Homo sapiens: one gene and its partners. The protein of the gene in region 2 interacts with the protein of the main gene of each other region in a biochemical or structural test. Each region holds a gene or a part of one and is shown on either strand. Other genes may lie near its edges.

Region 1 (7,111 bases), on a different chromosome or scaffold from region 2:
TCTTGGCTCACCATCTGAGTATCTATGAGACTGCTTAAAGTCTCTCTGCCTGGAATTAAAACTTGCAAATGAAAGCCTTCTGAAACCACATCTTGTTCTGAATTGTCACCTTTGCCTCTGCTCATCTCTCCCACAGATATCCAGCTCACTCTCCTCACCACACTTGTGCTCATGTTGTTCCCTCGGCCTCAAATGCACCAACAGACATGTAATAGGCACCCCTTATATGCCAAGCATGATGTCAGGAGCTGGGAATACAGGGTGAATCAGCTAAGCCCTGCTTCCAAGAGCGGCATGCTGTTAAAGGGGAAAGACGCTTATGTGGTAACTATGCAACTCAAGTGTCACTACTAGAGGATATGGAGGTATATTTGTTAGTAAAGGCATGGCTACCTATGTTTGGAAACAGCCAATATGCTGAGGTGACAGAAACAGAAAGCAGAAGTTGTGAGAGCCTGTGCATGAGTTAGTCACCTATGAGGAACACTGATGTGCTGAAGAGGAGGCTGCAGAGGCCTCATGTACACGAGCCTGAGCGTGGTGAGCCAAGAAGGGAGCTGCAGACTGACTGGATGGGGTACAGCCTGAGATTCCTGTGGTCTCTGGTTCAGGGCCCTGCTTCTCATGCTGGGGACGTCTCTACCATGGGTAATACCCCAGGAATCCTCACCACCTAACCTGATCCACCTGGAGGAACCCCGGCTTGGGAGATGGCAGGGCAGATGCTCTTGGCAGCATTCAGGCCTGGGCTTAAGTTACTCCCTGATGTGGCCATCTGCTATGCCCCAGGGATAGGAAGGAAAAATGGGCCTGAAGGAAAGGAGGTAAAAGAAGTAGAATGAGGGTCAACACACTCAGGGAGCACAAGGCAGGAAAGTAGAGAGACCAACTGAGAGAGTGGAGGGCGTACCCTTGTTGAGTCTGGAAGGAAAGAGGAGGAGCTGTGGAGAGGCACCAGGATAACCCTGTGCTGAAGGGCAAGGTAGAGAGACCCCAGAGTGAGGGTCTATAAAAATGTCCTGATCCCCCCAGCTCCCAGGACAAGGGGATGGAAGCCAGCGAGAAGCAGAGTGAAGTCCTGAAGCTGAGCGTTGTAATGTCTCGGTAGACCTGTGGGAAAGCTGGCTGCAGCCTCAGGATGGAGGTCTGGAAGACAGAAGGTACACAAGGGGCCCCTCTCCATCCACTCACCAGGGCTTGTTGCTTCTGGGCTTCCTCCTGCCAGAGGCTCCAGATCTTCACTGCCATCTGGGTGGGAGGTCAGGTTGGGTCTTGGGGGGTCTGCAGGGAGAGAAAAGCATTGTCACCCAACCAGGACATGGAGGACCATCCAGACACTCAGTGAGAACCTCCTGGCTCTCCTGACTTTTCTATGCTTTATCCTGCACGTGGCTCCTGTGTGTGGACGAGGTGCTGCACTGGGCGACTCTGGGGATGCCTGTCCTGTAGGGTTCCCAGTCCAGTGATGGAGAGGGAGCCAAACAATCACAATCCAGGGTGATCAAAGCTGTGACAGCTGGGGCTGGGGATACAAAGGACTTGTGACAGCTCTTTAATGGGCAGGATCTGCCAGGTGGAGAGGCACGTACTTCCTTAGCCATTCATGATTTATTCACTGACCCATGGGCCACACATTGCCTGAGGCCTCCATGGGCCAGGGACAGAAAATGTCAGGGTCCCAGAGCCCAAGCAGTCCTGAGCCATACCCTCCACAAGCTTCCCCAAGGAAGGGAACAGAGTCACCATCCAGGAGGGATACAGGCCACAGCGGAGAAAACGCCACTGCTGTCTTTGAAGACTGAGAAGCCATGAGTCAAGCAATACAGGTGACCTCCAGAAGCTGGCAACGGGCCAGGAAGGACTATCTACGTGCTGGAGCCTCCAGAAGGAACATGGTGGCCCTGCCAACACCTCGCCTCCAGCCCAGCCACATGCATTTGGAACTCCTGGCCTCCAGGACTGTAACATAATAAAAGTGTGCTGGTGGAAGCCACTGTGTTTGTGGTATGTGTAACAGCAGCAATAGGAAACGGATACACTACTCATACATTCACACAAATGGGTGAAGGGGCAGTCGAGGTAAACACACTTCTTACTGTGGGCTGTAGTTTAAAAATTCAAAAAGACACTGAGGTAGGACCTCCCACGAGATGCTTCTTAGCACACACTGGCCAGTCTGGAGAAAGTCTGCCCCAATGTGATGAGATTCTATCAAATGATAGTTTCCACCGTGTGTTATCTTTTACTTCTTTCATCTTTTGGAGTAAATTATTTTTCTGGTTCTTCAAAAAGAAAGAACTGAGGCAACAGAGAGGGAAAATGAGTTAATCAGGTGACACTGATGGGGAGCTGGGGTGATATGGCCTTGGAGCTGCACAGACCTTAGCTGGAGTCTGGGCCCTGCTGCTGTCTCACTGTGTGACACTGGTGTGCAGAAGAGGGCGACACAGCAGGCTGGCTGCTCTCCTGGGAAAAGCCTGCTGGCAAGGCTGGATTTCAGGGGGGTACCCCGTGTCTCCAGAACTGAAGAGACACGCTCCCTGGACCTAAACTGTGCAAACACGGTGGCTTACACCTGCTTTCCTTCTGGGGGGCTGGAATTTTGGAATGTGCCAGGCAGAGGAGCCCACATGACCAGCCCCCAGTAAAAACCCTGGCACTGAGTCTCTGATGAGCTTCCCTGGTGGACAGCATTTCACACGCGATATCACATTCTACAGTATTGCTGGGGGAATTAAGCATGTCCCATGTGACTCCCCTGAGAGAATTCTGGAAGCTTGTGCCTGGCTTCCTTGGACTTTGCCCCATGTACCTCCTCCCTTTGCTGACTGTGCTCTGAATCTTTTCACTGTAGTAAGTCATAGCCATGAGTCTGACTACAGGATGAGTCCTGGGAATCCTAGCCAATCACTGAATCTGTGGGTGCTCCTGGGGACACTGACACAGCTGGGAAGGTGACTGCCACTCTTTTAACCTCAGTTTCAGACCAATCGGCAAAAGAGGGACAACCCAGCTTCTTCATGGGGTGACTGGAGGATTGAACAAGCAAGTCCTAAGAGCTGCTACTCAATCATTCATTAGTTTAGAGCTGTCTGCTGGGCCCTAGAGCAGGTACTGTTCGTTCCAAACACTGGGGACACGCCCTGTCCTCACACAGCTCCCGCTCTGAATGATACAATGGTAGTTAGAACGTGAGGGAGCGACAGACAAGATGAGTAGGAGAGGAGGTATGGAGTTCTAACAGGGTCCCAGGTTAAACTTTAAAAATGTAAGCCCTGAGAGCCGCTTAGGCAGAGGGGAGGGCAACTGGAAGACTTTGAAGTATCAGCTTGAAGAATGACTGACTACAAGTAGGAAAGTGGTGAAGACAAGGCTGGGGAGGCAGATAGGGGCCAGAGCAGGGTTTCCCAGGCTTAGCACTACTGACACTGGCGTGGGCCAATCCTTGGTTGTGGGGCTGTGCTGTGCACTGTAGGATGTGTGGCAGCCTCCCTTGGTTCCACCAGCTAGATGCTAGCGGCACGCTGCGCTGGCCCAAGGAGTAACAATCAAAAATGTCTCCACACATTGCCAATGTCTCCTCGGCCAGCTGAGAACTGCTGGGCTAGGTCATGCTGATTCTGAGGAGCCCAGGAGCCAGGACTTCACCCTGTGGGTGGTAGAGAGCATGGGTGATCACCAAGCAGGGCAGTGAGTAGGCCCCTGGGGACAGGCAACACTCACCCAGCAGGAAGAGGTCCTGGCAATTGTCCAACGCTGTGTCCCAGAACGTGTCCCCCTGTTCCAGCCCGAGCTGCTCCCAGTCTCCCAAGGTGAAGTCCATGCCGACATCCTTGAGGGTCACAAATTCCTGAAACACAGTACACTATTGGTCACTCAGAGGCTGGGGTCAGGGAGGAGCCCAACAGCTCACTCAGGGCACTCCCAGCCCTCAATCTGCCAGGGCTTTGGCAAAAACCATCCCATCCTCAGCCTCACAAGAATCTTGAGATGTAAGAGACTGGAAACCCCTGTATTTTGTAGGCAAAGAAAAGGACCTTGACTTTGACCAGGGGACAGGATGTCAACCGAAGTTAACACAGGTGGGACTGAACCCAGGTCTGCCTGATCCTAAAAATCTATTTTACGCTTTTGCTTTAAGTGTTCATTCAAGACTTATTTTGTAAACTTTCAAACATACATACAAGTAGAGATGTATATAATTAACACCCATGAACTCATCACCCAGGGGTCATCTGATTTCACCTGTGAATACTTCAGTATGAACAGTAACTCCTTAATCACTGAACACCTAGACCACATTCAAAATCTGTATACAGATTAGTCTGACATCTCAGTGGTGTGTCTTTATAGCTAGCTCGTCTCAATCAGAATCCAGGGGGCCCATACCCTGTAACTGATGTGGTTCTGAGGTTTTGAAATCTACAGCTGTACCGCTGTGCCTTCTACATCCTCCATGCTCCTGATTTGAGGTCCCATGTTCTGAGTGTGGCAAGCTGCTTCCATGCAGTGTCACCTGGCTGCTCCCTGGCCACGCATTTCCTGTGAGCTGGTCAGGAGAGCAGAGGCCTGACTGGAGTCAATACAGCTTCTGGGGGAAAGACCCACTCACAGGTGGTACCAGGTCCGCTTTAGGTACCAGGTCCGCTTGGGTAACACATGGTTACCCAAGGCTCCTATCTGGTTGTCCAACTTTTAGTGATGCCATCTTTCATTTTAAGACTTTCCTAGTTAATAAGTGTTTATTATTATTTATGTGTGTGTGCATGTATATATTAAATTTTATTTTATATATAATTATATATATAATTTATAAATTTATAAATTTATAAAATTATAATTTATAATTTATATATGCACCTGTAGTCCCAGCTACTCAGGAGGCTGAGGTGAGAGTATCACAGGAGCCCAAGGAGGTCGAGGCTACAGTGAGCTGTGATCGCACCACTGCACTCCACCCTGGGGGACAGTGAGACCCTGTCTCAAAAAAAAAAAAAAAAATTTTCTACTATTTGGCTAGTCAGCGGTAGAGTTCGTATAGGACAGGTAGGGTAAATGCTTGACTCTCCTTTTATTTGCCAGTTTTCACTATAAGGAATTGGTTTCCTTCTGTCGTTTGTAAGTTATGGTAATTTATAAATCTGGTAATCCATAAATTATATATATTATATATACAGAGAGAGAGAGCGAGCGAGAGAGAGAGAGAGTGTCTCACTCTGTTGCCCAGGCTGGAGTGCAGTGCCACGATCATAGCCTCCACCTCCTGGGCTCAAGCAATCCTCCTGCCTCAGCTTCCAAGTAGCTAGGACTACAGGCTTGTGCCACCAGACCCAGCTAATTTTTTTTTTTTTTGGTAGAGTAGGAGTCTTGCCATGTTGCCCAGGCTGGTCTCGAACTCTTGGCCTCAAGTGATTCTCCTGCCCCTGCCTCCTGAAGTGTTGGGATTACAGGCATGAGCCACTGTACCTGGACAGTTAATGGATGTTTAGGATAAAAATTCAAATACTTGAGAAGTACCAACATTAAAACGTGAAAGCCTGCCCCCACACACCCCATCTCTAGGTGAAACCATGACTGATGTGTCTCTTCCAAATCTCCATCAGTGTGGGCACAGGCACATTTTAAGAAAGAATGAAAACCACCTCTCTTTAGTTTGGGTCTGAGGTATGGCCCTATTACCTTCCCTTTATGAGTGACTATTGGCAAGTAAGCTGCATGTCTCTTGTGACCCCAATTCCTGCTCCCCTAGTGAAATGGGACCAACGAGTCCCATCTCATCAGGGCTGCTACAAGAAGCAACTGAAATACTGCTGGGAGGTGACTGCATAGTACTTAGCACACAGGAAGAGCTCGACAAAGGGGCAATTCCACTCTGGCTTACACTGCCCATCCCAACCCTCCAGGCATCTGACTGCAAAAGCCCTTCTTTGGCCAACAGCTTTCTGCATGCCGGCAATGGTTCAATGCTTTAGGTGCAGTGAGTCACTGAACTGCCTGACTCCTCTTTGAGGCAGGATTATCCCCAACTTATAGAAAACAAAATCAAGGCCCAAATAGTCACTTTCTCCAAGTTACACAGTGTATTAGTCCATCTTCTGTTGCTATAACTGGGTAATTTATAAAGAAAAGAAATTTGTTTCCTATAGTTCTCGAGGCTGGGAAGTCCAAGGCCAACAGACTGCCTCTGGTGAGGGTCGTCCTGCTGGTGGAGACTCTACAGAGCCCTAAAATGGCACAACGCATAACATGGTGAGGGAACTGAAGCAATGTCAAGCTGGCTTTTACAACAGACCCACTCTCATGATAACCCATTATTCCATGAATAAATGAATTCACTCACACAGGCAGAGCCTTCATGACCTAATCATCTCTTAAAGGCCCCACCTTGGCCGGGCGCAGTGGCTCAAACCTGTAATCCCAGCACTTTGGGAGGCCAAGGCAGGCGGATCATGAGGTCAGGAGATCGACACCATCCTGGCTAACACAGTGAAACCCCGCCTCTACTAAAAATGCAAAAAAAAAAAAAAAAATTAGCTGGGCATGGTGGCGGGCACCTGTAGTCCCAGCTACTCGGGAGGCTGAGGCAGGAGAATGGCATGAACCTGGGAAGCAGAGCTTGCAGTGAGCCAGGATTGCGCCACTGCACTCCAGCCTGGGTGACAGAGTGAGACTCCATCTCAAAAAAAAAAAAAAAAAGGCCCCACCTCTTAATACAGCTACATTAGGGATTAAATTTCAAGGAGTTTCGATTGGTGGGGCATGGTGGCTCATGCCTGTAATTCCAGCACTTTGAGAGGCTGAGGCGGGCAGACTGCTTGAGCTCAGGAGTTTGAGATGAGCCTGGGCAACATGGTAAAACCCCCATCTCTACCAAAAACACAAAAAGATTAGCTGGGCGTGGTAGTGCACACCTGTAGTCCCAGCTACTCGGGAGGCTGAGGTAGGAGGATCACTTGAGCCCAGGAGATGGAGGTTCCACAAGCCAAGATCACACCACTGCACTCCAGCCTAGAAAACAGAGTCTCCCTCTCAAAAAAAAAAGAGTTTCAAAGGGGACAAACATTCCAACCACAGCACACGGTGAGTAGGTGGTGGGGTGGCACGAGCTCCC
Region 2 (7,014 bases):
AGTAGAGACAGGGTTTCACCACGTTGGCCAGGCTGGTCTTGAACTCCTGGCCTCAAGTGTTCTGCCCGCCTCGGCCTCCCAAAGTGCTGGGATTACAGGTGTGAGCCACTGTGCCTGGCTACTTTTAAAATTTTATTACTGCAAGGAAAAGAATACAACTGCTCCACAAGGGAATTCAAAGAGATTCTATGACAGAGATACAAAGTGAAATATTTTACAGTTAAAACACCATTACACTTAATTTTGCACTCCTTGTTTTTTCATAAACATTCCACACTGTCCTCTCTGTGAATTTGGATGGGTAACTTGGATCTGAATTGATGAAATACATCATTTTAAAGTCAGCGACAAAATGTAGCTCCTCATGTATTCTTCATTATGTTTCACTGATGATATGACCTAACAAAGCTTCTTCTTGCTGTTACAGCCTGATGGAACTTACATTTTATGTGAATATTTTGCAAAGGATTATGCATTCTCAAATGCATAGGCATTTTTTTCCAGAAAGCATTTGTATATGTCCACAAATAGTATTATCTTACTGGTATCTATATTTTGATTTTCCTGAGCAACTGTATCCAATCAGAGTTTAGAGTAGGCATATATTTTTTTAAATTAAAACTGTGGCATACATATAAAACATACCTAGTTCTTTTTTTTCCCCCCTTCCAACTTTTGTTTTTGGATCAGGAGGTACACGAAAGGTTTGTTGCAGGTGTAAATCGTGTGTCACTGGGGTTTGGTGCACAAATTATTTTGTCACCCAGGTAGTGATCACAGTACCCAATAGGTAGTTTTGTGATTCTCACCCTCCTCCCACCCTTCACCCTCAAGTAGGAACTCTTTCTTGAATGAATCCAATCCTCACCCATGTTTCTGTTGTTTTCTTGCTTTCTGAAGGTCATCAACTCTGTGCGACGTCAATGCCTTTCTCTCATGTACACTCAACTGTCTGCAGTGCCATGGTGAAAATTTTCAGTATGTAGGGCATATTCTCTGAGATCTTGATTCCAGGGATATATACTTAATCATAAGAAGTTGACAAAGCTGGTCTTCACACACTGTCATACCATTACAGTAAAGTGCTCTATAGGGAAAGCTAAAACCACCCACCACATAGCAATACACAGGAATATTCCTTTCCCTTGACAATCTTGGTAGCAAAGCAATAACTGGTAAAATAGAAATAAATGTTGCAATGAGACTTGGAGTGCATTTCAACTACCTAATGGTGGCAAATTGCATAGGCAAATTAAGGTCCCCCAAACTGCTCTCATTTTGGGAACAAGCATACTGTCTTTGTGTTACAGCCAGGCAAGCAGGCCGGGGTAAATCCTAGCTTGGGCAGGGATGCTGTGGCATGGTAAGACATCCAACGAAGGCACACGGAACAGCACAGAGCGTTTCAGGATGTTCTCTCTTAATAAACAAATTTCTAGGAATGAAGCAAAACAGTCCCTTGCTTGGCACACCTCTCCATCCAAAAGACAGTGACTTAATAAGGTAACAATTTAATTATCAGGATACAGATGCTTTGAATGGCTAAGTAGGTCATTGTGTTCACAGGGCAGATGTCAGAACTGCTTGCCAGATGACAAAAGAGATAACCTTAGGCTGTTTTTATTCCATTTATACAAGACCTAACTCACACATTAGAGCCTCTGCTGTTTACAGCTTTACTCTAAGGATCTATGAGGAGGCTCCAAGAAATTCCCTTGTGCCATTTACACCTTTAGAACTTAAAATAACCTGCACATATGGTAATATGAGCCTGACAGACACAGTCCTGCACCCAGCCAGGCAGAGTGGCTGTAAAACAGCGTCTGTGTTTTAGTGGCATTCTGTGCCTGCTGCATTTCAGCACTTGTGACTTAGTAATGTGAACATATGTGTATCAAGACTCTGCAGCCCTTCTGCTTATCGCACTCGAGAAGGAGCTGTCAATGTACAGGGGTTATGGGATTATGCGCCTGTGCTATCTGAACAAATCTCCCCACACTCCATCCGATCATCCTCAAATCCCACTGACCAAATACTCTCCTTCCCCTAATATTGGCTGTGCGCTCCCCCACGTCTCCCGTTTTCCGCCCCACCTTACCTCTCACTGTGGTCTCTAAGACCTCTCATCACCTCTGTAGACGTCCCTATGATGTCCCCCAAACTCTGTAGCCCCGCCACCTCTCCAGGTCCTCCATCAATCCTGTAGACCCTCTCGGCAGGCTCATCACCTCTGTGACCCTTCCATGGGCCCCGATTACCGCTGAAGACCTTTCCCACGGCTTCTTATGACCACTACAGCCTTACCACTCTCCCTCTGTTGCTCCTACAGCCCCTTTTCTTACTCAGGGTGACCCTCCCCACGCCCTCATTACCCACATTACTCAAGCAGATCCACCCCATAGTCACTGATGATCCCCGCAAATTTTCACCAAGGCGCTCCCGCAATACGTGCAGACCCGCGCCCGGCCACCGCCGCCCCGCAGACGCCCCCTCGGCAGCCAGCTTCCGGACGGCGGCTGCCCCGCTTCCCGCCCGGCCCGCGGACTCACAGGGCATTCGCGTGAGCACGTTGCGTGGCGCCTTCCTGCTCCGACCCGGACCCCTCCGGCCCGCTCCTGCGGCCCCGTCCCCTTCCTCTTTGGCCACCATGAGACGGCGGAGGCGCTGGATGCGCTCGGGGTCCGGGGCGGGCGCGTCCGGGCGGCGACGAGTCCTGCCCGAGGGCCCGGGTGCGGCGGGAACCCCAGAGCCCGCGGCCGCGCCCCGAGCCCGCCCGCGCCCGCGCCCGCCGCCCCGGACTCCGGTCCTGAGGAAGCTCTCGTACTCCGCCACGTTGTTGAAGCAGGGGGCATTGGGGTAGGGAATGGGAGGCAGGCGGGGCGCGTACAGGGCCAGCAGCGGGTCGAAGCTGTCAGAGCTGACATCCAGCCGCGGGCTGGGCGGGCGCGCGGGGCTCCCGGCGCCAGCCGACCTCGCCCCCCGCTCCCGCTCCTCCATGTTTGAAAGGCCCGCAAGCCGAGGCCGATGGGAAGAAGGAACGAAGCCGCCAGAGGGCGGCACTGCGCAGCCGCGGCGCGGGGTTGCACTGCGCCGAAGCGGCCGCGGGAGGGCAGCACCTGTCCTCGTTCCACCCGGGCCGGGGGGCGTGGTACGCGGCTCCGACCAGCCCGCGCCTCGCACCGCCTCCTCCCATAGCTGACAGGTTAACGCTGTCGACTGCTGCTTGACCTGCTCCAGCGCAGTTTCCCCGTCTGTATCATTATCACTTAGGGTGTTTGTTAATACTCTGGGTTCCCCGGGAATGAGCTCGGGATCGCATCCTAGCTTGAGCTGGCAGGAAGCGTCTGGAGGAAGGCAATGAATGTCTCAGTTTGCTTCCATGCTGAGTACTACTGATAGGGTGGGAAGAATAGCCTATCTGGGCTCAAAGTATTTAGCGTGTTTCTCGTCTGAAATATGATATAAATAGCACCTACCTTATAGAACTGACCTCAGGATGGAGAGATACTGCCTACAGAGCTCATAATAGATGCATGTCAGCCAATACTGGGTGTCTGTCCTCCATTTCCTATACCCTGTGCATAAACAAATTTGTGCTTAGTATCAAAGAAAATTCATTATATCACTGTCTTTCTAAGCATTGCTAACCAATTGGAAGAAACGAAGATCCAGCTCTTGGAGGAAACTATGGAAAATTCCCAAGACCTGATCATACCACTTGCTACTTTATAGTCTCAGTTCGGCAAAATATTTTTTGGTTGATTTTAAAATGACAGTCTACTCTTCGCGGAAGGCCCAGATATAACCTTCTCATCCAGCAGAGCCAAAATGTTTCCACTCACCTACAGGCCACACATCACTTGCCCGTCACCACATTCTCAAACTGCCATCAACTAGTATTCTCTGTACTAGTTGCTTTGTGTACATTTCAGTTTCCTTAAGACTTAGGAAGTCCAAGAGAATACTGGAGAGTACCTTAGAGAGCAAGATGAAAATTAATATACAACTCTGAAATATACCTTGGGATGAATGCATACTACAGCGAAGACAAAACCATCAAGCAGGCCGGGCGCGGTGGCTCACGCCTGTAATCCCAGCACTTTGGGAGGCCGAGGCGGGTGGATCACGAGGTCAGGAGTTCAAGACCAGCCTGGCCAAGATGGTGAAACCCCGTCTCTACTAAAAATACAAAAAATTAGCCGGGCGTGGTGGCACGCGCCTGTAATCCCAGCTACGCTGGAGGCTGAGGCAGAGAATTGCTTAAACCTGGAGGGGCGGAGGTTGCAGTGAGCTGAGATCGCGCCACTGCACTCCAGCTGGGGTGACAGAGGGAGACTCCATCTCAAAAAAAAAAAAAAAACAAAAACCATCAAACAGTGGCTTCTAATTGGTAGCAGTACAGGTTTCTTTATGGCACAGGTTTTGAACCCAGCTTATCACTTTGTTCAAAACCCCCTGCCTGAATAAAAAACTCAAAGCTGCAGAATTGCTGGCAATTCAACAAATGAGCGCTCATCCCCACATCATATGGCAAAACTGAGTGATAGCCTTTATAGTGTCATTTAAGACCCACAGAAAGCACGTTTCTCTGGGTGGTTTTCTTGAAAATTTGTACTCTAATGCCTACTTGTATTTTGATATAAAATGCTGTCAACTTACCATTAAGTTAAAATTGCCAATCAACAGCTACATTATCTTACTTCCTTCCCACCCAGCCTATCACAGTATACCGAGGGCCTTGCTGCCGAAGCTGCTGTATATTGACAACCACACATATCAGAAGCCTTTGGGGCTAAAAATCAGATTGCTGGCTGGGCGTGATGGCTCACACCTGTAATCCCAGCACTTTGGGAGGCTGAAGCGGGCGGATCACGAGGTCAGCAGTTCGAGACCAGCCTGGCCAATGTAGTGAAAACCCCCGTCTCTACTAAAAATACAAAAATTAAGCCAGGCATGGTGGTGCGTGTCTGTAGTCCCAGCTACTCAGGAGGCTAAGGCAGGAGAATCACTTGAACCTGAGAGGCAGAGGTTGCAGTGAGCTGACAGAGCGAGACTCCATCTCAAAAAAAAAAAAAAAAAAAAAAAAGATTGTTGAGCTTCAAACCTTTCTGGGGGCTGGGAGGAGCCAAAAATGTGCATTTTAAACAAGCATTCCAAGTAATTTTTTTTTTTGCATCCAGAAGTTTGTGAACCACTGCTATGATGAGGGCATGTGTATCCTAGGCTACCCAGAGATATACACAAAAGTTAGATTTCATATAGTCTATTTGTCTAAGAAAAATAAATGAAAAAGCAGGCCAAAGGAGTTGACATCTTTATTTCTTTCCTCAAAGAGATTTTAGCAATTACCAAACAAGAACCGTATCTCCTCTTTCTGTGGAGTGAGAACAGGAAGGGAAAAAATGGCATCGACAGATGGGTTGTCAATTAGTGAGGGATGAGGCCAGCCATCACCCTTTCAAAAATACATTTTCTTCTTAGATGTAAATTCTGCAGTGCAAGACGAGGGACTGGGACACGGGCTGTCTCTTAATTTTTTTTTTTAAGGCAGTTTTGCTCTGTCACCCAGGCTGGAGTGCAGTGGCATGATTTCAGCTCACTGCAACCTCCACCTACCAGGTTCAAGCAATTATCCTGCTTCAGCCTTCTGAGTAGCTGGTATTGCAGGCACACGCCACCACGCCCAGCTAATTTTTCTATTTTTAGTACAGACTGGGTTTTGCCATGTTGGACGTGCTGGTCTTGGACTCCTGGCCTGAAGTGATCTACCTGCCTCAGCCCCCCAAAGTGCTGGGATTACAGGTGTGAGCCACCATGCCCAGCCATGTCTTTTTTTTTTTTTTTTGAGATGTAGTTTCGCTCGTTGCCCAGGCTGGAGTGCAATGGCACAATCTTGGCTCACCGCAACTTCCGCCTCCTGAGTTCAAATGATTCTCCTGCCTCAACCTCCCAAGTAGCTGGAATCACAGGCATGCACCACCATGCCCAGCTAATTTTTTGTATTTTTAGTAGAGACGGGGGTTTCTCCACGTTGGTCACGCTGGTCTCGAACTCCCGACCTCAGGTGATCTGCCTGCCTGGGCCTCCCAAGGTGCTGGGATTACAGACGTGAGCCACCGCACCCAGCCTCTTAATTCTTAATGGGGCCAAATAATCCTTTCCCTCCGAAATATAAAACCAGGACAAGAGAAAAATGTGAGTTCTCTCACCACCTATTCCCACTACCTTCCCCCTTCAGAGGCCAAGTTTGGCTGCATGTGATGATCCCTGCTGCTCTGTGCTGTTCCTCACCCATCTCCACTGACCCAACAGAAGGTGGCGCTATTAATATTATGCCTCCTCTGACACCTGCTACCTGTCGATTAGCAGAGGATGTTTACCCCTCTGCTCTTGAAATCAAATGTCATTTGTCTGATTACATAGAGGCTATGTGAGAATGTTTTTCAAGAAGTCTAATAGGAAAGTGACTTTTAAAACTGAAATGTCTTGAGTACATGGGGTAAATGTTTCTTCATCCTCATTCACGCATTCTTGTTTCTTTCTCTCATATATACACATAATTCTGTTTCTTCTTAGAAAGAGGTAAATGGCCTTGGCAACTATGCCCCTGGCTAGAAGATGATGATCATGCTGACAACTCCATTAAATCAATCCACAGAATGTGTACGCAAGGACACTGAAGCCACTACTCATTTGTTCAGCCAAAGTTGCCAACTTAGAGACTGGCACAAAGCCCCGAGTTTTCCCTGCAATTCCTGAATTCAGAGGCATCATGCAGGCATTAACCCATATTTATCTTGAGGTCTGCCAAAGACGAATGCAAGTAGATGGGTGGCAGAGGTGAGATTTTCAAAGTCAGTGGGTTTTCTGGTTAAGAACAGGTGGGCGAGAGTTTGGGCTCCTCTTCTCTCATAGATGAAAATAACTGACAGGTTTTTACAAGATTTATGTCACAATCTAAAAATGATTCATTCTCCAAGGCATGGAATAGTTCTTGCTTTATAAAAATAGTAC
Region 3 (6,876 bases), on a different chromosome or scaffold from region 2:
AGCATCATGTTAGCACTCAAAAAAGTTTCAGATTTTGGGGAATTTCAGATTTCAGATTAGGAATACTCAACCTGTATATTATGATCATCTGCACATAATCTCTCACCTTTACCAATATTGAGGAAGCTCCTAACAGAACCTCAAAAATACATAACCACATAACCTTTTTTGATTTTTGAGATGGAGTTTTGCTCTTGTTGCCCAGGCTGGAATGCAACGGTGTGACCTCAGCTCACTGCAACATCTGCCTCCTAGGTTCAAGGGAGTCTCCTGCCTCAGCCTCCCAAGTAGCTGGGATTAGAGGTGCCCCACCACCACGCCCAGCTAATTTTTTGTATTTTTGTAGAGACAGGGTTTGACCATGTTGGCCAGGCTAGTCTGGAACTCCTGACCTCAGGTGATCGACCCACCTCAGCCTCCCAAAGTGCTGAGATTATAGGCATGAGCCACCGTGCCCAGCCCCTATAAAGATTTAAACAAGCTTATGGCCTCAGCTCACTGCAACCTCTGCCTCCTGGGTTCAAGTGATTCTTGTGCCTCAGCCTCCTGAGTAGCTGGGATTACAGGTGCCCACCACCATGGCTGGCTAATTTTTGTATTTTCAGTAGAGATGGGTTTTCACCGTATTGGCCAGGCTGGTCTCAAACTCCTGACCTCAAGTGATCTGCCCACCTGAGCCTCCCAAAGTGCTGGGATTACAGGTGTGAGCCACCACGTCCGGCTGGGACCATATCTTAATGAATACATTTTTTAAATGAAGAACCTAGAACAGAGAACCATTAACCCTAGCTTTTAGGAACATTTAGATGACTTACATTTTGGAGGGGAAATGTCTATGTACCTTTAAAGTGTCTCTACATCAGGAACACACAAAGAAAACAATTCCAGCAACCCTAAAATTAGGCTCAAATGAAATCAATAAATATTGTCTGGCTGATCATTATAAATTTTATCTTTTAAAAGCCTGACCTGCTCTTTTTTCTCAGCTTCTATTTTCTCAATGCTACGGTTCTAACTATCTAGTGAATGTTACAGCTCAATCTTTGAAAGTCACTTAGTCTAATGAGGAAATAAGCCCAGAGAGGTGCCCACATGCTTTGGTCTCCTGCCTTTTTGCATATTGCATTGACCACAGCAACACCAACAAGAAACCAAGTACACTCTGAATCTTCTCGACATTTTGCTATCAGAGCAATTTATGTTCATGGAAAGTCACAATTATAAATTTGTTCCTTTTAAAAGGAACTCAAATGGAATTTCTAATATTAGCCTGTGAGAATGTCCTGACTGATTACTGAAGAATGGACAAACTTCTAGGATAGAATTATGGGTGTTGCTCAGATGGGTAGCAGAGAAACTGGGGAAGCTCTTGTACTGGCCATTGAAATGTTAACACTGAAACCCTGCAGCAGTGGGGAGAGTGTGCATGCTTTCTGCTGCTGGTAGGTGGTAAGGCTGTATGATGTTTTAAAGCACAGGCTCAAAAATCACAATTCACTATCTACATGACCTTAAGCAAGTTATTTTACCTCTCTCTATAACTCAGTTTCCTCAACTATAAAGTGGGATAAAAGCGTATCTCATAAGATAATTAAGAATATTATAATACATAATAAAGAACTCAGGACAGTGGCTAGTACAGAGGTCTCAGTAAATTTTAGTTTCCATTTCAAGTGGCTGTTTTACTTGCCTATTGTTAACAGACTCAGAAATTCTGAGAGTCTGGTTAGAAAAAGGAAAATTCGTTTTTTTTCAGTCTACCTTGCAAGATAAGGGAAACCAAGTGACAGTGCTGAAATGAACACTGGGCTGAGTGGTACCAAACATCAGTTTAGTCACTAATTAGCCATGTGATCCTGTTAAGAAGGTTAGCTTGTATAACCTTATTTTTAAGGACACATAATGATTTCAAAAGTCCAAGTATAAATCAGTAATTACAAATCAGCCTTATAATACCCAGGTATCTATGAAAACTAAAAATTGAGAGTTGATAAATATAAGAAATTACTGCTGATCTAAAAGGAAGTGGCAGAAATCCCCTGAAATGTGTTAAATCTTTGCCTTACTAAATACTTGCCAGAAGCTATAACTATATTTTCTTATTAATTTCATGTTCATCTTCTCAACAAGTAAACAAAAATAAAGCCAACAAAATTCTCATATTTGCCAGCATTATTTTTTAAAAAACATTTCTCATTAATGGTTTTAGTCAAGAATGAGAGCAAAGTAATATAGAAAACCTAGGTTTATTTGTTAAGCTATTACAAAAACAAAACAATTACCATTTGAAGTACTTTGAGGACTTCATCCCAGACTCACTTGTTCTGTTACAGAAACTAACCTAAAAGGCTGGAAATTAAAGGATACAACCTAAGAGGTTATAACAGCAGACTGGTAAAACATGGCGAAAGGAGCTCTCTCTTTCCCCCGCAGTCTACCAAGCTCCTGTGCATTTTCACCACATAGATCTGCTAGCTTACAAATGATGCACACAGTCAAGGTAGGAATTATAGGCCTACTCAGAGGGTACCCAGACACAGAAAGTTTTAGGGTAAATAGTAAACTACAAATACCCTCTTGGTTAAGTTAATTCATCAAGTTAATAAAGGTCATATTATCTATCTTCTGCTGGTGACAACTTGTTGTCTCAGTATAGTCTGTCTCAAGAAAGAACTGGTTCAGGTTGGGTTTTGGAAAAGGAAAAAGACTTTCATTAACTTCACTCCAGAGTGGAAGAGGCACCAAGTTCTCTCCTACACTTAGGAGCAGAATCTGAAAAACAAAAGGTTTACAGTGTTTACAGTAGTGATAATAATAATAGCTACTACTTATTGAATGCCTAGTCACGAGTGCCAGAGGACTTAGGTACATTTTATCTTAGCCTCTGCAACAACCCTGCAAGGTAGGTATTATCCTCCCCATTTTACAGATGGGGGAAGTGAGGATTAAATAAGTTATATGCCTTGTCCAAAGGTGTACACAAGTATGTGGCAGAGTTGTGATTCCACGATTAACGTGCCGTCTCCACCCCACCTCATGCACTGAGAAGTCCTAGTTCCATTATCCTGAAATTATTAACAGTTGCATAAACTACTCTTAATTATTTATTCCTTATTCATTCTTTTAAAGCATGTACAATTTTAAATGATTAAAAATTTACACAGCCAGGTGTGGTGGCTCACACCTGTAATCCCAGCACTTTGGGAGGCCAAGGCAGGCGGATAACCTGAGGTCAGAAGTTCAAGACCAGCCTTACCAAACATGGAGAAACACTGTCTCTACTAAAATTACAAAATTAGCCAGGCGTGGTGGCACATGCCTGTAATCCCAGCTACTCGGGAGGATGAGGCAGGAGAATCACTTGAACCCGGGGGGGCGGAGGATTCGGTGAGCCGATTGCACCATTGCACTCCAGCCTGGGCAACAAGAGCGAAACTCCATCTCAAAAAAAAAAAAAAAAAAAAAAAAATTAGCCGGGTGTGGTGGTGGGCACCTGTAATCCCAGCTATTCAGGAGGCTGAGGCAGGAGAATTGCTTGAACCCGGGAGGCAGAGGTTGCAATGAACCAAGTTGCGCCACTGCACACCAGCCTAGGCAACAGAGCGAGACTCCCGTGTCAAAAAAAAAAAAATGTACAGACATTGTTCGGAATTCAGATCAATTATCCAGATGAAGAATATGTATAAACATTATACATAATGTTTATACATTATAAACAGGGTGCAGTGGCTCATGCCTGTAATCCCAGCACTTTGAGAGGCCGAGGCAGGCGGATCACGAGGTCAAAAGATCAAGACCATCCTGGCCAACATGGTGAAACCCTCTCTCTACTAAAAATACAAAAATTAGCCAGGCGTGGTGGCGCGCGTCTGTAGTTCCAGCTACTTGGGAGACTGAAGCAGGAGAATCGCTTGAACCCAGGAGACAGAGGTTGCAGTGAGCCAAGATCACACCACTGCACTCCAGCTTGGGCGACAGAGCGAGATTCCATCTCAAAAAGAAAAAAAAAAAAGAAAAGAAAAAAAACCGTTATGAATAAAATAATTCTCTGCCTCTGAGCTCTAGGATAAAATTAACAGAAAACAAAGCTCATTAAAAAGTTTGTGGCTATTTCACCATTAAAAAGAATCCTAAGAATTCTTGCCAAGGACTGCAGTAACATCCCATTTGTTTAACTGTTAGTGACATACCAAATGAGTTTCTCATGATTCTGATTAATAATAGAGTGGCTGATGTTCTCTGTATAGTCTATTCTTCAAAAGAAATATGTGAAAGCCCAAAGACCCAAAAATCTGTTTTCTAATTGCAATAAAACAGTTACTAAAACAAGTATCACTGAACTGAAAAAATTAATATGCTATAATGTGATGAGAAATAAGGAAAGAATACTGAAGTTGATATCAAAGGATTTCCCATGAAGTAGAACAGTGAAGTTACTGACAATTGGAACTGTGAGAGCTAAAAATCAAAGTTAACAGAGCTCCAGTGATGTGAACACATGATTTTAACAGAGAAGACATTGCTAATTTTAAACTGTATGGCTACCACTGACAAAAGTAAATGTGGAAATTAAAATTAAGTATTTAAGGGAAAATATAAATCATAGAACTCTAAGAGGTTATTTTCTGATAGTTCCACTGGCAGGATGTGAGAAGAAAGCACAGGTCCAGTATCACAATTCATGGTCAGTATAAGAAGCAATGTTATACAGTTTTCACAATAGCAGTAACTTGGAAGCTAACTGGAACTTTAAAAGGCTGGTTTCTGAAATGAAATAGAACAGGGGTAAAGGAATTAAAACTTGTAACTGGAGAAAAGCCAATGATTACAGAACTAGGTTCAGAACTAAAATCTGTATCAGAAGAAAAGAGAAGGAATTCTGAAATATTTATCATTGCAGGGAATAACAAAGGATCTTATAACTTAACTGGATGACTGACAGTGGTAGCAGAGTCAAGTCAAAACATATAAATCTTACCATGCTATTACTATATGCTTTAGTAAAATAAAAGGAGGCTAGCGAGAGCATCTCAAAGACTGGAGGATAGCCAGTATTCAAGAAAACAATGCTATAAGGTAGGAGGAAGTTGTAGTGGGGAGACAGGGACAACAATTTAACAACAGCTTATAAAGGACTACTACAATTACTGGTTCTAGCTCTGTATGATATGAACATGACCTTCAGTTATTATCTAACATATAGTTGAAATACTTAGGCTGGCAAAGGACAATATATTTCTCAGAATAATGGAGTAGCAAATAAATTGTCAGGAACAATCTGAGGTTTAAAAGAAGAAAAATTTTTTTAAAGAAGGAAAAAGAAATAGGCCAGATACAGTGGCTCACAGCTGTAATCCCAGTACTTTCGGATGCCGAGGAGGGAGAATCATTTGAGGCCAGGAGTTAGAGACCAGCCTGGGCAACATGTGAGACCTTGTCTCTACGTAAAATTTTAAAATAAGCTGGGTGTGGTAAGCATGTGCCTATAGTCCCAGCTATTTGGGAGGGTGAGGCAGGTGGATTGCTTGAGTTCAAGGCTGTAGTGAGCTAGGATCATGCCACTGCACTCTAGCCTGGGTGACAGAGTAAGACCCTGTCTCAAGAAAGAATTTTAAAAAGTAGAAAGTAATCATTTCATATGATTTTCATGATCAGCGACAAGGGAGAAAATGAACTACTCACCTTAAACTTGCATAAATCATTTTCAGTGATCAACATCTGCATCCTCAAACTGTCCAGCAACTGTTGGTGTGGTATCCACCTCCATCCCATCTAAACAAAAAAATTAATTACTGAGCAATCCCTATGAACACTTCAGACAGGTAGATTCAACTTATAACTTCTACCAGAAGGAAGCTAGTGCCCTCTGCTGGTAAGAATTGCTTTTTCCTCTTTTTGGAAAAGTCTGAAGGGACAAACTGAGAAAGAAAATGCTACCTGGGGATTTAGGCCACATCAAAATCAGTCTGCGACACTAACTGTGTAAATTCTCACCCTCAATACTAAAATAACTCTATGTAGGAACTTTCAAATGCAGTATCAATTGTTCACCCTTTACAGATCTAAGTATTTACTGTTAGGCTTTTTAAGGTATACAGCCCTATCCTCACAAAGTGAAAAGACAAAAATCAGTACAGCAAGCTTTTTGCTTATTTCCCTGTTTTTGTCATCTCATTAAATAAAAGGTGGGGAGGGAACAAGAGAAAAAAAACAAGAGCCCTGATATGGTTTGGCTGTGTCCCTACCCAAATTTCATCTTGAATTCCCACGTGTTGTGGGAGGGATCTGGTGGGAGGTAACTGAATTATGGGGGCAGGTCTTTCCCGTGCTGTTCTCATAATAATGAGTAAGTTTCACTAGATCTGATGGTTATATAAGGGGGAGTTTTCCTGCAAAAGCTCTTTTTGCTTGCTGCCTTCCATGTAAGATGTGATTTGCTCCTCGTCTTCCACCACGATTGTGAGGTTTCCCCAGCCATATGGAACTGTAAGTCCAATGAAACCTCTTTCTTTTGCTAATTGCCCAGTCTTGAGTATGTCTTTATCAGCAGTGTGAAAACAGACTAATACAAGCCCCACGGAAAGAGTTGTCTTGGCCAGGCACAGTGGCTCACGCCTGTAATCCCAGCACTTTGGGAGGCCAAGGTGGGTGGATCACCTGAGGTCAGGAGTTTGAGACCAGCCTGGCCAACATGGCAAAACCCCATGGCGAAATCTCTAACAAAAATACAAAAAAATTACCCGGGCATGGTGGCAGGCGCTTATAATCCCAGCTACTCGGGAGGCTGAGGCAGGAGAATGGCTTGAACCAGGAAGGTGGAGGCCAAGGCAGGCAGATCACCTGAGGTCAGGAGTTAGAGACCAGCCTGGCCAACAT

Evidence for each region.
Region 1: the proteins of LSM11 (region 2) and ZNF473 form a complex in vitro, tested with the Homo sapiens proteins (one study listed by BioGRID).
Region 3: the proteins of LSM11 (region 2) and CLNS1A form a complex in vitro, tested with the Homo sapiens proteins (one study listed by BioGRID).

What each region holds. Positions count from the first base shown.
Region 1 is NC_000019.10:50,035,900-50,043,010, reverse strand, and holds part of ZNF473 (zinc finger protein 473), read right to left. Parts: intron 3,851-7,111; coding exon 3,724-3,850; intron 1,990-3,723; exon of another isoform or gene 1,282-1,989; coding exon 1,192-1,281; exon of another isoform or gene 137-1,191; intron 1-136. UniProt on the Homo sapiens protein: Involved in histone 3'-end pre-mRNA processing by associating with U7 snRNP and interacting with SLBP/pre-mRNA complex. Increases histone 3'-end pre-mRNA processing but has no effect on U7 snRNP levels, when overexpressed.
Region 2 is NC_000005.10:157,739,734-157,746,747, reverse strand, and holds the start of LSM11 (U7 snRNA-associated Sm-like protein LSm11), read right to left. Parts: upstream 3,037-7,014; 5' UTR 2,998-3,036; coding exon 2,550-2,997; intron 1-2,549. UniProt on the Homo sapiens protein: Component of the U7 snRNP complex that is involved in the histone 3'-end pre-mRNA processing. Increases U7 snRNA levels but not histone 3'-end pre-mRNA processing activity, when overexpressed. Required for cell cycle progression from G1 to S phases.
Region 3 is NC_000011.10:77,613,924-77,620,799, forward strand, and holds the end of CLNS1A (methylosome subunit pICln), read right to left. Parts: intron 5,773-6,876; coding exon 5,705-5,772; 3' UTR 5,683-5,704; intron 4,765-5,682; exon of another isoform or gene 4,617-4,764; intron 2,773-4,616; 3' UTR 607-2,772; downstream 1-606. UniProt on the Homo sapiens protein: Involved in both the assembly of spliceosomal snRNPs and the methylation of Sm proteins.